Regions from separate parts of the Homo sapiens genome. Here all the other regions are reported to be linked to region 2. Evidence: microRNA targets listed by miRTarBase, many of them from high-throughput screens and not tested one by one. Region 2 holds a microRNA gene; each other region holds the end of a gene's coding sequence.

What was found. The annotated mature microRNA hsa-miR-4776-3p reads CUUGCCAUCCUGGUCCACUGCAU and lies in region 2 at 1,971-1,993, shown strand. An mRNA with a match to its seed (bases 2 to 7 or 8) in the 3' UTR can be bound and repressed. Matches are read on the target gene's strand: a 7mer-m8 pairs with bases 2 to 8, a 7mer-A1 pairs with bases 2 to 7 and ends in A, and an 8mer does both.
Region 1: the mRNA of RFX1 is a reported target of hsa-miR-4776-3p. Seed matches in the 3' UTR shown: 7mer-m8 at 1,778-1,784.
Region 3: the mRNA of TMEM233 is a reported target of hsa-miR-4776-3p. Seed matches in the 3' UTR shown: 7mer-A1 at 373-379 and 7mer-A1 at 1,631-1,637.
Region 4: the mRNA of SPRY4 is a reported target of hsa-miR-4776-3p. Seed matches in the 3' UTR shown: 7mer-A1 at 1,228-1,234 and 7mer-A1 at 945-951.

Annotation. Positions count from the first base shown.
Region 1 is chr19:13,959,980-13,962,979 of GRCh38, forward strand. It overlaps RFX1 (regulatory factor X1), which reads right to left. Exons shown (of 21, transcript NM_002918.5): 21 at 1,551-2,885. The coding sequence ends at 2,716. DCAF15 (DDB1 and CUL4 associated factor 15) reads left to right here. Exons shown (of 13, transcript NM_138353.4): 10 at 5-90; 11 at 308-412; 12 at 486-601; 13 at 961-1,470. The coding sequence ends at 1,016. Among named protein-coding and RNA genes, the nearest start is that of DCAF15, 9.0 kb to the left of the region's middle. RefSeq lists an enhancer at 1-185.
Region 2 is chr2:212,924,340-212,928,355 of GRCh38, forward strand. MIR4776-1 (microRNA 4776-1) reads left to right here and starts at 1,918; the gene lies at 1,918-1,997. It overlaps MIR4776-2 (microRNA 4776-2), which reads right to left and starts at 1,997; the gene lies at 1,918-1,997.
Region 3 is chr12:119,640,470-119,643,469 of GRCh38, forward strand. It overlaps TMEM233 (transmembrane protein 233), which reads left to right. Exons shown (of 3, transcript NM_001136534.3): 3 at 230-2,606. The coding sequence ends at 236. All of the region lies in intron 1 of PRKAB1-AS1 (PRKAB1, TMEM233 and CCDC60 antisense RNA 1), which reads right to left. Among named protein-coding and RNA genes, the nearest start is that of PRKAB1-AS1, 26 kb to the right of the region's middle.
Region 4 is chr5:142,310,659-142,314,564 of GRCh38, forward strand. It overlaps SPRY4 (sprouty RTK signaling antagonist 4), which reads right to left. Exons shown (of 2, transcript NM_001127496.3): 2 at 1-3,906. The coding sequence ends at 3,551. Among named protein-coding and RNA genes, the nearest start is that of SPRY4-IT1, 5.7 kb to the right of the region's middle. RefSeq lists an enhancer at 260-761.

The sequences.
Region 1 (3,000 bases), not on the chromosome of region 2:
CCAGGTCTGCCCAGAAACCAACCAGGTCCTCATCAACATTGGCCTGCTGCTCCTGGCCTTCCCGTCCCCCACTGAGGAGGGCCAGCTCCGGTGAGCGCGGGGATCCTGCCCTCTCTGTCCACTAGGGGGGCCACTGGCAGACACTTCACGGTGGGGGTGTGGGGACGTGAGAAGGCTCTCCCTGTGCCACAACCTGGCTGGGCCCCTCCATAGCTGTTCCAAAGACAAAAGGCCCTCAGGGTAGCCTGGGGCCTGGTTCAGGAGCCCGGCTGTCCCAGCGTTTGTCCTATGTCCCTCTCCACTGTAGACCAAAGACCTATCACACCAGCCTCAAGGTGGCATGGGACCTCAACACAGGGATCTTCGAGACAGTCAGTGTAGGCGACCTGACTGAGGTCAAAGGGCAGACCAGGTGAGGCAGGGCTGGGGGGCAGGGTCAGGGCGCGGCCAAGGCGACGAGAGCCACTCACCCCCTGGCCCCGCAGCGGCAGTGTCTGGAGCTCCTACCGCAAGAGCTGCGTGGACATGGTCATGAAGTGGCTGGTGCCGGAGAGCAGCGGCCGCTACGTCAACAGGATGACCAATGAGGCGCTGCACAAAGGTGGGGCTCGGTGACCCCGTGATGGTCAGGGTCACCAGGAACACTTGTCCTCACCCAGGAGCTGATTCCTGAGCGCTGATGAAATGGGTGGGAAGGCTGGTGAGGAGAGGGCAGCCCAGGCCAGGCCCAGCTCAGCAGCCCTGAAAGTGTGGGGCCTGGGAGCCTCCCACCAGTCATGGCCTGGCTGGTCACTCATTCACGCTACATTTATTGGGTAGCTGCAGGCTAGAGGTGGAGGGCAACTCAGCAGGGTCCCTGCCTTCTGGAACCTTCTGGGCCAGAAGCAAGTCAGGTGGAGGGTGTGGCCGCAGGGCCAGGCAGGCAGGGGCTCTATGCTTTGTCTCCACCTGTCCCTGTAGGGTGCTCCCTGAAGGTTCTGGCGGACAGCGAGCGATATACGTGGATCGTGCTGTGAGGGCCAGGCCGCCCCGGACACTGACTCCAACTACCTCCGTGGCCTGGGACCGGCCCCCTTCCTGGGGTGGCCTCTTCCTGGCCGGCTGGCCCACCGACTGATGACCGGCACTAGTGTTAGCCTGCGGAACGGGGCTGGGCAGGGCAGCCTCTGTTGGCCTGAGGGTCTGGACGCTTTTTATTTATGCCTATTTAAGTTGGGAAGGGGCAGAGAGAGGGCGCCCCCTGCCCCACCAGCCTGAGTGCCCCGCCTTCACCCCGAGCTGGGCATGGGCCTGGCCCCTCGTGCATTTGCCCTTTTCTCGGCTACAGCTGTGGACGTTGCCCTCGGGGAGGTCGAATGGACCCCATTCCCCCTGCCCTGCCCGCCCCCAGCCTCCCCACCCAGGCCGGCAACCTGGCCATCCCCATTCCGTTCTTCTTCATGTAATAAATGTTTTAATTTCTGAACCTCATTGAGGTCCTGTCACTGCAGCTTGGGGCCCAGCTGGAGCCCCCGCCCCAAGGCCCCCACCAAGGCCCGGCGAGTCAGCAGTAGGCAAATATCACAGCGGAATTTATTGTTTTAAGAAAGACTACAAAAAGGTAGAAAACAGCTCGGCACACTAGACTACCACACGTGTGGACACTTTCACCACCGGGAGAGGGAGCCCCGTGGGCACGGGGACTGGGCAGGGCCGCCCCAAAAGCTATAGCACGCGGAGCACACAAAATAGTGATTTTTATACAATAGGTCAGATTTCCATTTTTTTTTCCTTTTTCTTGCCATAAACATCTATCTCACAGGCTGAAAACACTGAGAAAACTGGAACAGATAAGGCCATGATGGTTGGAAAAAAACCCAACAAGTTACCAACTCCGCTCGGGCGGCGCTCACGAATCGCACAATAGTCATGGGGTGGGGGTCGCACGGCACGGAGGAGAAGCGTGGTCTCCGGGAAGATAGGGGCACAGAAAAGGTTCCATTACAAACCAGCGGCGGAGGGCGGGGGCGCGGGGGCTGGGGTCTGTGGGCACTCCCCGGCTCCGCGGCTCGCTGCTCTTTGGAAGCTGGAGGCCGTGCCCCCTGCCGCCCTCCTCACAGCCGGGCCGGGCAGTGCCCCCTTCTTGAGCTTGGGGGCAAGGGAGGGCCCAGCGCTGGAGAAGATGCGACACCCACGGCTTTAATTGCACTTAATACCAAGAAGGGGAAGCAGTGGGGTTGCTGGGGGTAGGGTGTCCCGGGGCTGCTGCTGACAGTGGGGAGTCCCCAGGTGACGCCCACCTGCGCCGGCCCGGGGCTCAGGGCTGGGCCCAGGACAGGCTGTGCAAAGCCAGCGAGCTGAATAAGTTAACAGTTTCGCACGGGAGGGGGCCTGCCTGCCTGCCCCCTGGGGTGGTGGGAGGACGGGGCTGGGGAGAAGACGCTGGGGCCTGGGAGGGGGGCGGCCAAGGGGCCGAGCTGGATGCCCCGCGGGGCACCTGGGCACGCGGCGGGTTCCTTAAGGCACGTCTTTTGTGTCAGAGTTTGCAGCTGCGGCTCCGCCCAGCCCACTGATTGTGCCGGCCCCATAAGGGAGGAGGGCCCCGGTCTTCCCTGTCTCGGAGTCCCCCTCCCTGCCCTGGCTGAGGCTGGAGCAGTGACCACGAAGCCACAGAAGCTTTGAGGGACCCTGGCGTGGAGGGGTGGCGGGGGCGGGTGGGGCGGGGAGGCCAAGGGCTTAGCTGGAGGGCAGCGCCTGCACGAAGAGGCCGCGCGCGTCAGTCCGCGCCAGCTTGGCCGGCGGCTCCAGGGTCTCCGGGCCCAGCGCGGGTGACTCGCCGCCAGCCGCCAGTGAGATGTCCTGCGGCAGCTCGTCCTCGCTCTCCTCCTCCTCTTCTTCCTCCTCGTCTGGAACACAGGGACCAAGTCCGGCTCGGGGCGGGGTGGCAACGCCCCCGGGCTCCTCCTCCTCCCGAGCCCCTCCGTTGTCCGCCACCCCCGGGACCCGCGCCCTGGGTGGGAA
Region 2 (4,016 bases):
GCAGTCCTGACATCTCTGTTCTCAGGAGAAGAGGGAATCATTTAATGTTATTGAGTCCCTTTACCTCCTCATTCTCTTGAGAGCTATGTGCATAGAGAAAGCATACTTTCTGCTCTGCTATTTCAGACCCTACATTTTAGAGTACATTGTCTAATGTTGGAAATAAGGTAGGTAAGTCTCTCTAAATCTGAGATTCAGTGATAGTAAGGCGATCCTCCAAAATCAACTTTAACAATGATAAAATTGATAATTTCCTCTCTATCTATCTTACTCTGTTTTTCAATGACTCAGACTCAGCTGGAGAAGAGAGATGTTCCCTCTCTTGAGCTCACTAAAGACATTCAACAACATGTAATACAATGGGTGGGACATTTGTCTTTTCCAGGCCAAGGAAAAGGAAAACAAACTTAGGTCCCCAAAGACTTAGGATAAAATATCACAGATATAAACTTAGCAAAGTTGAACTCAGCTGTTAGAAAATGGAATTGGATTAGTTTCCTGTGGCTGCTATAACAAATCACCACAAACTCAATGGCTTAAAACCACATAAACTTATCCTCTCACAGTTCTAGGGGACAAAACTCCAAAATCAGTTTCACTAGGCCTACATCCAGGAGTTAGCCAGGCCATGCTCCCTCTGGGAACTCTAAGAGAGAATCTGGCCTTTCCTCTTCCTGCTCATGGGACTGCCAGCACTTCTTGGCTTGTGGCTGCATCACTCCCATCTGCCTCCCTGATCACATTGCCTTCTCCTCGTTGTCAGCTCTCCCTCTGCCTCTCTCTCATAAGGATATACGTGACTGCATCTAGGGCCCATTCTAATAAGCTGTGATAACCTCTTCATCACAATATCCTTAACTTAATCATACCTATAAAGACCTTAAATTTTTAATGTTTTAATTGTTTTTAATTTAAAAATGTCTTTTCTTAGGTTCCTACAGACAGAAACCTTTTTTCTGTATCAGGTAGTATTTACAGATTCTAAGGATTAGGACCTGACGTCCTCGGGGGACTATTTTTCCACATGAGTTCAATAGTCTTGAATAAATATCATTTATATCTCTTTTCTTCTTTTCTCTATGTTCTGAAATTTTACAATTTAAGATGCAAAAATATGTGGTCTAATATCATAGTTTTAGAGAATTAAGAAGGTAAATTCATCCTAGAGTTTGGATCAAACAAATAATATTTAGAAGGAATATATCATAAGGTGATAACTTTGTATGTCGGTATATATGTAAGTGTGGGTGTGTGTAAATCATTAAATTTCCATATATATACCATATAATTTTCTACCTGAAATGTTGTGAGTTAAATCAAAAAATGTAAATTATTCCTACATATCATTAATATTATAAATTCAGGACCATAGTTATTTATATATTTATTTTTAAAATTCTGGTTGAAGCATTTGGTGAAACAGTTCCAGAATTGAGTTTTTTATTCTTTCTATATGTGGAGCATATGGTAAAATTATTCCTATTTCTAATATGAGTTTGGTATTTTATTGTTAAACTCTAGAAAACAACCACCTTTTAGCCAAGAACCTTTGCCCTCTAAGACACACTCAATTGTATTTTACTTTTGCTACCAACATTTAGGGGTTAGTTTACTTTGTGTTATCATATTCCACCAATATTCAAAAGATTTATCACTTGGCAAGAGTTACTGATGACACTCCATGAGTAGGAAACCTCAAATCTTGGTGAAGGGCAGGCACTGAGCTTCTGCTAAGCACTCTCACTAGCTAAGAAACTTGTGCTACATACTACATGTGCCCTGTTTCAGTTAGGACAGGCTATGATATCGTAACAAATAGACCGCCAAATTCAGCTTCTCATGTTTGAGGGAAAAACACATCTATCTCTCTTTTGGACAACAGTCCAGGATGAGGGTTCCAGGTCAGTGGGAGCTCGGCTATATGCAGTGGACCAGGATGGCAAGGGCTCTCCTGAAAGGACAGTAGAGCCCTTGCCATCCTGGTCCACTGCATATAGTCTGCTCCATCTCAGGAAGCCAGAAGGTAGAAGGGGATGCAAAAACACAGCAGTGCAAGAGCTCTAGTATGTGGCCACACAGAATTGCAATGGAGACTGGGAAGTATAGTCTAGCTGTGTGCTCAGGAAGAAGAGGAGAAGGGATTTTGGTAAACAGCTGGCAGTCTTTGCTGCATGCATTATTTCTGCCTCAGCAAAATAAAAGTTGACTATGTAAAACAGAGGTCATGTGTGTAGAGGTCATTGTGTATACCCTTGGGATATACACAAGCATTCAAACCAATGAATAGTGAGAATTTATTCTACCCAAGCAACTATTTATGCCGAATATTCAGAAGGGGAGGGGAGCAGGAAAGAAATGGTTTATTTTCTTTAAATTATTGAAAATATTAGCTTATATCAATTTTCTCAAGTGATGAAAATGCAGGGGTTAAGCCTTTATTTTTTTTTTAAAGTAAATATTAGTATTATGTAGTATATGTTAAGAAGGTTTTTTTCTCTTCATTTCTTAATCTATTGAGGGAAGGACTAGGCAAATGAAGTTAGGCTTCTTTTCTCAGGGGGCCTAACTGTTGGCCCAGGCTGGGTTCCAAGAACTAATACAAGGAATGGTAACTGGTGGGGTTGTCTTTTTGCTGAATGAAGAGAAGAAAAGAAGAATTCCAAGTCTGTTTCCCAGGCACAGGAAGGACCAGGAAGCAAGGAAACTTCCAATTTTCAAGTCCACTGAGCAGAATACAAGAACAGGGTCCAAAACAAAGAGTTCTCCGTTGAGAACCGGCAAGATGGAGCAAGCAAGTCCTGCAGGCAGGCTGGGCCTGGAGAGGCGCCAAGAGGCCACAGCACTCTTGGGAGGAGGTTTTTCTGGACTCTTGAGGAGCTGAGACTTTTATATTCCAACCCTGCCTTTAATTTGAGGTTTGCCTCCTCCCTCCATTTGCAGAAGAGTAATCCGAAGCTAAATCATTCATAACATGAGAATGCTGATCTGTGTCCAGCCCTTGTGAAGGGAAAAGAAAACAAAACTTCACAAACATAATTAGTAGAACTACCTATAAAACCTAATGTTAAAAGAGAAATTAGCTTTCATGGAGAGAAAGTGTGATGGCATGACACAGAAATTAAGTGCACTGAATTTAGATTTGAAAAGAGTTTGATTCAATTCATGTCCCTGCTTCCCAGTAGTCCGTGACCTTGGGCAAGTGACCTATACTCTCTAAATCTTAGTTTCCTTATCTGTAAGATGGGAGATGAAAATAATACCTAATTCATATTTTTTAAGAACTTAATGAAAGAATGTTCAAATGTATCTAATAAGGTATAGGAACTCAACACATGCCAGTTAAACAAATTTCTAATAATTGACTTTCTTATTTCTTCCTTTCTGGGTAAAACAACTGTCCTTTGTATACTTTCATTTTTTGGAGACAGAGTCTCACTCTGTCTTTTTTTGGAGACAGAGACTCACTCTGTCATCCAGGCTGAAGTGCAGTGGTACGATCTCGGCTCACTACAACCTCTGCCTCCCAGTTTAAACAATTCTCCTGCCTCAGCCTCTCGAGTAGCTGGACTAGGACTACAGGCGGGAGCCATCATGCCTGGCTGGTTTTTTTTGTATCTAAGTAGAAATGGGGTTTCACCATGCTGCCCAGGCTGGTCTTGAACTCCTGAGCTCAGGCAATCCACCTGCTTCAGCCTCTCAAAGTGCTAGGATTACAGGCGTGAGCCACTGCACCCGGCCTGCCCCTTGTATACATAAAAAACAATCAATCAAATCTTCCTCCATGACCCCTTAAGCACTATTGAGTAAAGGTGGGATCTTAAGTTGTGACAACTGATATATGTAAAATGTCAATTTAAGAACATCTCCTTTCAGACATGAGTATTTCCCTGCAAACTTAGGTTTATGTCTAAGATCTTAAGGAAATAAATACTATAAAAAGACATAGTTCAAATAATGTATTAATAGAAAAAAGGTCCATAGGAATATCTCAGTGTTTTCTTTTATATGAGATGTAT
Region 3 (3,000 bases), not on the chromosome of region 2:
TTTTTTTGCACGTACCACATGTAAGATAAAATAAGTTTTACAAATAGAATATGTTTCTCAAAAGGAAGCCCCTGCTTAGAGTCAAAAGTGTGCACGCAGGCTGGTACATTTCAACATGTGTTTAACCAGAGTCATCATCATCAAATAAGGAAGGCATCGAGCTGGGAAAGCCAACCACAGAAGCTCAGCCCACGGTCTTTCTCTCTCTCTCTCTGTCTGTACCACACAGTGCCTGAGGAACCAGCGGTCAGTGGGCTGTGAGCGTGGAGGATGGACCTCATCCACACACACCCCAAAGGAGTTTCTAAGGAATGGATCCTTGACTTCAGACTGTGAGATCTTTTCCTCCAGGACTCTCCAGAGGCAGGTCCCTGGCAAATGAACAAGAAAAAAAAAAAAAAAAAGTCCAAAATTTAGGCAATCCAAGCTGCACAGCCGGATCAGCCAAAGTCATTGATTTGTAAAAATGAAAAGAAAACAGAAAAAAGAAAAATGAAGTCTCACTGTCTCAGTTTAGCGAATCCCGTTGTGTCCACTCCTGTCCTCCAGAGGCGAGCCTCAGGAAATCACATAACTTTTCACTGAGGGGATCCAGGGGGTCTCCATATAGGGGGAGATGGAGGTTTCTAGGAAGAGCAGCAGGTGCTGGTATTTACAATGTTGAGCACAAACATTTGCAGCATGTTTAAAATTGTCTAGTAGAGTTCAAGTTGTGGATTTGCTTTTCCTTTTATTCTTATAACCTTCAGTAACTCCTCCTCTGGGAGTCAGCACTCCCATGCCCAGAGTTCACCCATCTGGTCATCAAACACTCAAAGAAGGGGCTTTTCTGGCCTTTTGTCTTGATGCTTATATTTCCAAATAGGCCCCCTCCCTTGCTTGCATCCACGTTGGTCAACTTGACCAAAACCTCACTCTTCACTCAAACAGGCTCTGAGAATGGACTTAGTGGCCAATTCTAGGTACATGAGCACTTCCTGTATCCCAGTTTTGGGAATAAACTGGCTGTATTTATAGAATGTGCTTTTTTTTTTTCAATTTCTCACTCTCTCTCCTATCTCTAGCAAGTCTCAGGCAAGATCTTTGATTTTCCTGGATGCCACCTGGAAATGCCACCCATTGTGTTTCTTTTCTGTCAAATGTAAACCCTTTAGATGTGAATGTACTGGTTTAATGATGCCATTATTCTGCCTGCCAGAACGCAGTAACCCAGTGTCTCACAGAGCACAAGGGGTGTGCCACTGGTGGTACACAAGATAATTTTTAAGTAGTTTCTAGGAACAACATTAAGTAATACCAAATCACAAAGAATGTTTCCCCTTTTCTATTCTTTTTTCATCCTGATTACAGCAAGGAAAAAGTCTCTGTTTAGTGCTAGCAGGTCCTTTACACCTTTCAGACACTATGGCTCTTTTCCCTTTTTAGCAAAGAAAGAGCAGGCCTCAGAGTCTTCTGTCTAGATAGAATTTAATGATATTGTTTTGTGTCATGGTATTTATTTTATTTATTACCTTCCATTTACAGCTTCCCACAGTGGGGGATGTGACATATTGTTTCTGTTCAAATAAATTAAGAAAAACAAGAGAACTCAAGAAAATATCAAGTAATTAACACACCAGATAAGTATATGTGGCAAAAGTCACTTCAAAGAATTAATGTCAGAAAGATGGTGATAATGAAGCAAAAGAAAGGCAGATTATGCTGGCCGGGCGTGGTGGCTCACGCCTGTAATCCCAGCAATTTGAGAGGCTGAGATCACTTAAGGTCAGGAGTTTGAGACCAGCCTGACCAACATGGTGAAACTCCATCTCTACTAAAAATACAAAAATTAGCCAGGCGTGGTGGTGCATGCCTGTAATCCCAGCTAATAGAGAGGCTGAGGCAGGAGAATCACTTGAATCCAGAAGGCGGAGGTTGCCGTGAGCTGAGACTGTGCCACTACACTCCAGCCCGGGGTGACAGAGCAAGACTCCATCTCAAAAAAAAAAGAAAAGAAAACGAAAGAAAAAGAAAAAAGAAAGGCAGATTATTCTAATTGAATGAATAAGAGGCTGAGAGTCAATACCTAGTTCCAACGCCCTTTTGTTTTTGCAGGGTTTTTATTGGCCACTAACTAGCTATGCAAGCTGATTTTAGGCAAGTTTCATAGCCTCTCTGTGCCTAAAATTCCTTCACCTGCAAAATGGGGATAAGAATGCCTGCCTACTTACCTCACAGTGCTGTTATGAGAATTAATTGTTGTAATAGTTGTGACTAACCATTGGCGGGGAGAATTCTAAGTACTATACCAATACAAATTTCAGCATTTTTTCATATACTGAACCCTAGCAAAAAAAAAAAAAATTCTGATGAACATCAGATTCAACCTGTCATTTTACCCGGATGTTGTGATGAGCCAGCACTTGTCCCAGGAGGACGTTGAATCAGGGACACGAAATCTCAGCACACAGAGATTCTAGCATCATTCCAATAGATTGGACCCTGATTTCTGTTTCTGACATCCTGTTTTTTGTTTGTGCGTGTTTGGGTCCCTGGTCTTTTACCCAAATCAAATGAAAAGTGTTGCTCAGAGGCAGAATAAAAATGGTTTTAAGTAAGCCTGTGTACCACAGTGTGTGAATTGTGTTTTCTTGGGGTTCCCCACCTTCCAGAGATTTCCGTAACCAAAATAAGCTCATCTAGTCCAGCATCAGTCCCCAGGGAAGAGCCCAGAGAGGCCAGAGGTGGCGCTAGAGAGGCATCACTCTGAACTAATTTATGGCCAGAAATGTCCCTCTATGAGGCACTGAAAATGTTGGTCCTATTAAAGTAAAAAAATAAAATAAGAAAAATCTTGTCATTAAATGTGCTCCTTGGGGTCAAGAGGGCCACTGATTTTTGTTGGGCGTCCCCCAGGTCCTAAGCTCTAAGAAGGACAAAATGGTTTTTGTTGGGATGATGGGCTTGTCCAGAGCTTCCTCCAAAGCTAAGACTGCCCCTGCTCCACTCGCAAAAGCACAG
Region 4 (3,906 bases), not on the chromosome of region 2:
TGGGATGTGGCGGGGTGGGAGCCTCGAGCTTTTCTGTTTGTAACATGAAACCAAGCTGTGGGACAGTAAGAAGAGAAAGCAAGGCAAGACACTGCACGCAGTTACCCACAGCAGAAAATGGCAACGCAAGATTCATCATCGACTGTCACAGTAAGCAGAGGGGGCACAAAAATGCTTGTCAAAGGCATGAACCAGAAGGCTAGTGAGGCTCGCAGGATGCCCTAGTGAATCGTACAGTGTAGAGCTGTGCTGCCCACGCCCGCCAGACACTTCCTGGGACAGCACAGAAGGAGAACAGGATGCTTCAAGGTGACAGTCATCCGGGTTCTGGTGCAGATCAACTTTCCACGTGTGCCATCTTGGACAAGTCATTATCTAGCTGGGCCTCACTCGAGGTATGATGGCGACTGACAGGCTCCACAAGGCTGAAAAGAACTAGCCATGTCTTCCATCTCAGCTCTGAGGGGGTGCGTACCAAAGGACCAAAGGAAGGGATTGGTCTTCACCCCCTTCCTGCTCAGGAAAGCCTTAGTTGTGCCCAATCTTTTCTCTGGGAGGGCTTTGCTACCCAAGACCCAGTTCCCAGGGTGCTCGCGGAAGCGCTGTCCTTCATTAACACGGGCAGCCAGAGCCCCCTAGAAGCGTCCTGGATCCCAGGTGCCCCTCGAGTTAAGACAGAACCCCCACCTACCCCAGGTTTACCAGGGGCGGGAACTAACCAGCACTTTTCAAAAAAGGTCAAGCCGAGGCATCGTCCAGCCAAACAGGCCATTGGTGACAGGAAACACACTCAGCCAGAAGCAGCTACACATGTGTGTTGTGTCTCTGAGTGCTGGGTCCCTCAGTGGCTCTCGACTGGCCCCAGAGCCGGGGAGGGTCCACAGGCAAGCCAGTTTATCCTTCTGTTTGTTGTTGTTGTTGTTGTTGTTGTTGTTGTTTTAATTTTTGCCAAGAAGCTGAGAAAAACAATGCTGAGGGATTGCTACACAACCAAGCTGGGAGAACCAAGGATGGTTCCTTCGCTCCTTTCCCATGACCACTGAGCACACGAGGCACTGAGGTGGACTCTTAGAGAGCACTCTGCAGACATCCATCAAGCAGGTTGAAAGCAAACCAAGAAGAACAAGCTAGAACAGGGGCAGGGGGAAAAAAGGAAAAAGCAAACCAAAACCCAGAAAAATCCGTGTTTACAAGTATGTACACAAAAAGTCAGGGTTCAGGAGGCCGTTTGCCAGGAAATAGGGTCTTTGTCGGTAGACAGTCAGTGTGGGGTAGGGGTGTGTGTGTGTGTGTGTGTGTGTGTATACACAGCTTATGTAAATCGACTCTCCACAGAACGGGTGTGTAGACCACCAAGATCACCAAAGTGCAACTTGCCACTGGGTCAAGTTTCCCATGGAGACAATTTGAGGGAGGGGCCCTGGGAAGTTCTGAGGCCTCGCAGAAAGCGTGCAGATGTGCACTATCAATTTTGGGGCCCCCTCATCTGAGGAAAACCATCTCCAGTCCCTTCAGTACACTTCTGATACATTCAATTCATATAAGTGGTTGGCTGAATGTGTGTTTTTTTCTACCACTCCTTCTGAAATGTTCAAGAACATCCATACATCCGTCACAACTGTGGCAAGGGTAGCTACACGAATCAGCCTTGGAAAATGCAGATGCAATATTTCACATTCGCCTTTTACAAGCTAGCAAATGTTACATAAATAAAGCCGAAAATAATATGACCCTCCCTTCCTCCAATCAATAAATACCTATGGTTACAATCAACTTACTCTAAATCATAAGATGTTACTACTAGTCTTCAAGAAGGAAAAAATAAGTCCTTGAGAAGCATTAGGTGCCTATCATAGCTACCTACCTCGCTGCCTCCTTCCCGGAGGCACCTCTGTTCCTATACAGAACAAACTGGAAATGCTACGGACGCTCTGCCTCATGCACTTCCAGTTTCACCTGGGGTAGCTCTTCTGACTCAGGCCATGCCCTCTCATTAGAGGGGAAAACAAAATACCACACAAAGCAAGAACCCCACACAAAAGCTGGGGAGGAAGGACCAGATACACTACAGCTTTTGCATGCAACAAGTACCTACCCACTGGACGTGCTGCACCTTCTGAGTCCTTTAGCACCTTGAGAGAAAGAGTTGCTACGTCTTTGAGGGCTGTCGGGAGAGGGTGGTGTGGCTGTGCACAGAAGCAGGGCTCAAACCCAGTGGCCCCTGGAAAAACCTTTCCCCTACCCTCTCCCCAGCTCTTCCAAGCTCTTCCGACTCCCCTGCTGGGGCTTCCTAACACTAAAATAGACTCTTTTTTCATCATCTCTCTATTTACATTAAAGATACAGACACATCACTATACACAAAAGGCTATGACAGTGAGCAGCAGAATCAGAAGAGAAGAAACCCAAACCCAGCCTGGCTCAGCGGTCATTCTGCCAATGGGAGGTGCTGCCTCTCTTCTTTGCTGTTAAAATCCTCTTGTTGATAGGGAGGGAAATTGTGTTCCTTGAGGTTGCTCGCCCCCAGATTTTGAAATCAGCCCTTCCTGGGGGTGGCCAAAAGGAAACAAGTTGTTTTATTATTATTTTTTAAAACACCGTTAGCATCCGGTTTAATTATTCTATAAAAACATAATGACTGGATCCAGAGACCACAGCCTCAGACTCATTGGCAAAATGATATTTGGTCTCGCATTTGCCGCCCTGGCTTCCTCTACCCATATAAAGTTTCTGGAAGGGATCTGAGTAGAGAGAACCCAGGACACGTAGTGGGCAGGCGAGTCTGTGACTCAGTAAGAACCGAAGGACGGTGTGGTGAGCAGAACACCCCCGAGAGTTAGTTGATGCAGTTGGAAGGGAGAAGTGCACTGAGCAGTGGCTCCTAAATCCATCCTGTGGCTCCGGGGAGGCAGAAGGAGGAACGAGGCTTGGACTCACTGGCCGTCCTCTGTTCTCAGTGGCTCCCAAGTATATACAATAGGAACTGCTAGGGTGTTCTACACCTTCCCCAAGACATCAGGGACAAAGTGGGGTGGAGTGAGATGGGGAAGGAGAAGAAGGTATAGAAGACTCCAAGGGTCTTCTTTAAAGGTACCCTGGTACTCAGTTAACAATTCCTCCCAGGCAGCTAGCTCCTGTGAGAGCCAAAGACAATGGAAAAGAGGAAGGGGGGGGGGGCGGAGGGAGGGAGGGAGAAGGAGGGGCTGGGAAGGCATTCAAGCAGCTGCAGTTTCCGGATATGTGTCCACATCTGTGTTCTGTCTTCTGAAAAAGAAAAATTTCCCCCCAAACCACACCCTGCCCCTGCATTGTCTGTTTGACACAAAGTTTCAGGACCCTGAAAAAAAGCCCCAAAGTGCTTCTTCATCACCTTGGGGAATACAGGGTACGTGGTGGTGGTCTCTGTATTTTCCGAAGCTGGGGGTAGGGAGTGGGCAGACTAGCAAGGTCAGCCTCAGGAGGCTAAAACCTCTGACCTTGCTGCAGTCTTCTTAGATGTCAGAAGAGAACCAGGTTTCCAGGCAGAGCACTGGGGCTTCGACACAAACTGTCAGAAAGGCTTGTCGGGCCTGCTGGTCTTGGCATCCCCGCTGGCTGCTTTGCAGATGACGCTGTTCGTGTGCTTGCAGCGGCAACCAGGGCGGCGCAGACGGTCGTAGCCACGCTGGGCCAGCTTCACGCAGCCGGTGGCAGGCAGGTAGCAGAGCAGGCAGGGCAGCACCACGGAGAGAGCACCCATGAAGGACCAGCGGGCGCAGCAGTTGGAGCGGGAGCAGGAGCAGGGGTGGTCAGCGCAGGAGCCCTCATCGTCCTCATTCGTGCAGTGGTAGAAGATGCCCTGCACCAAACACATGCACGTGCCATAGTTGACCAGAGTCTGGGCTGAGCACAGGCACTCCTGGTTGC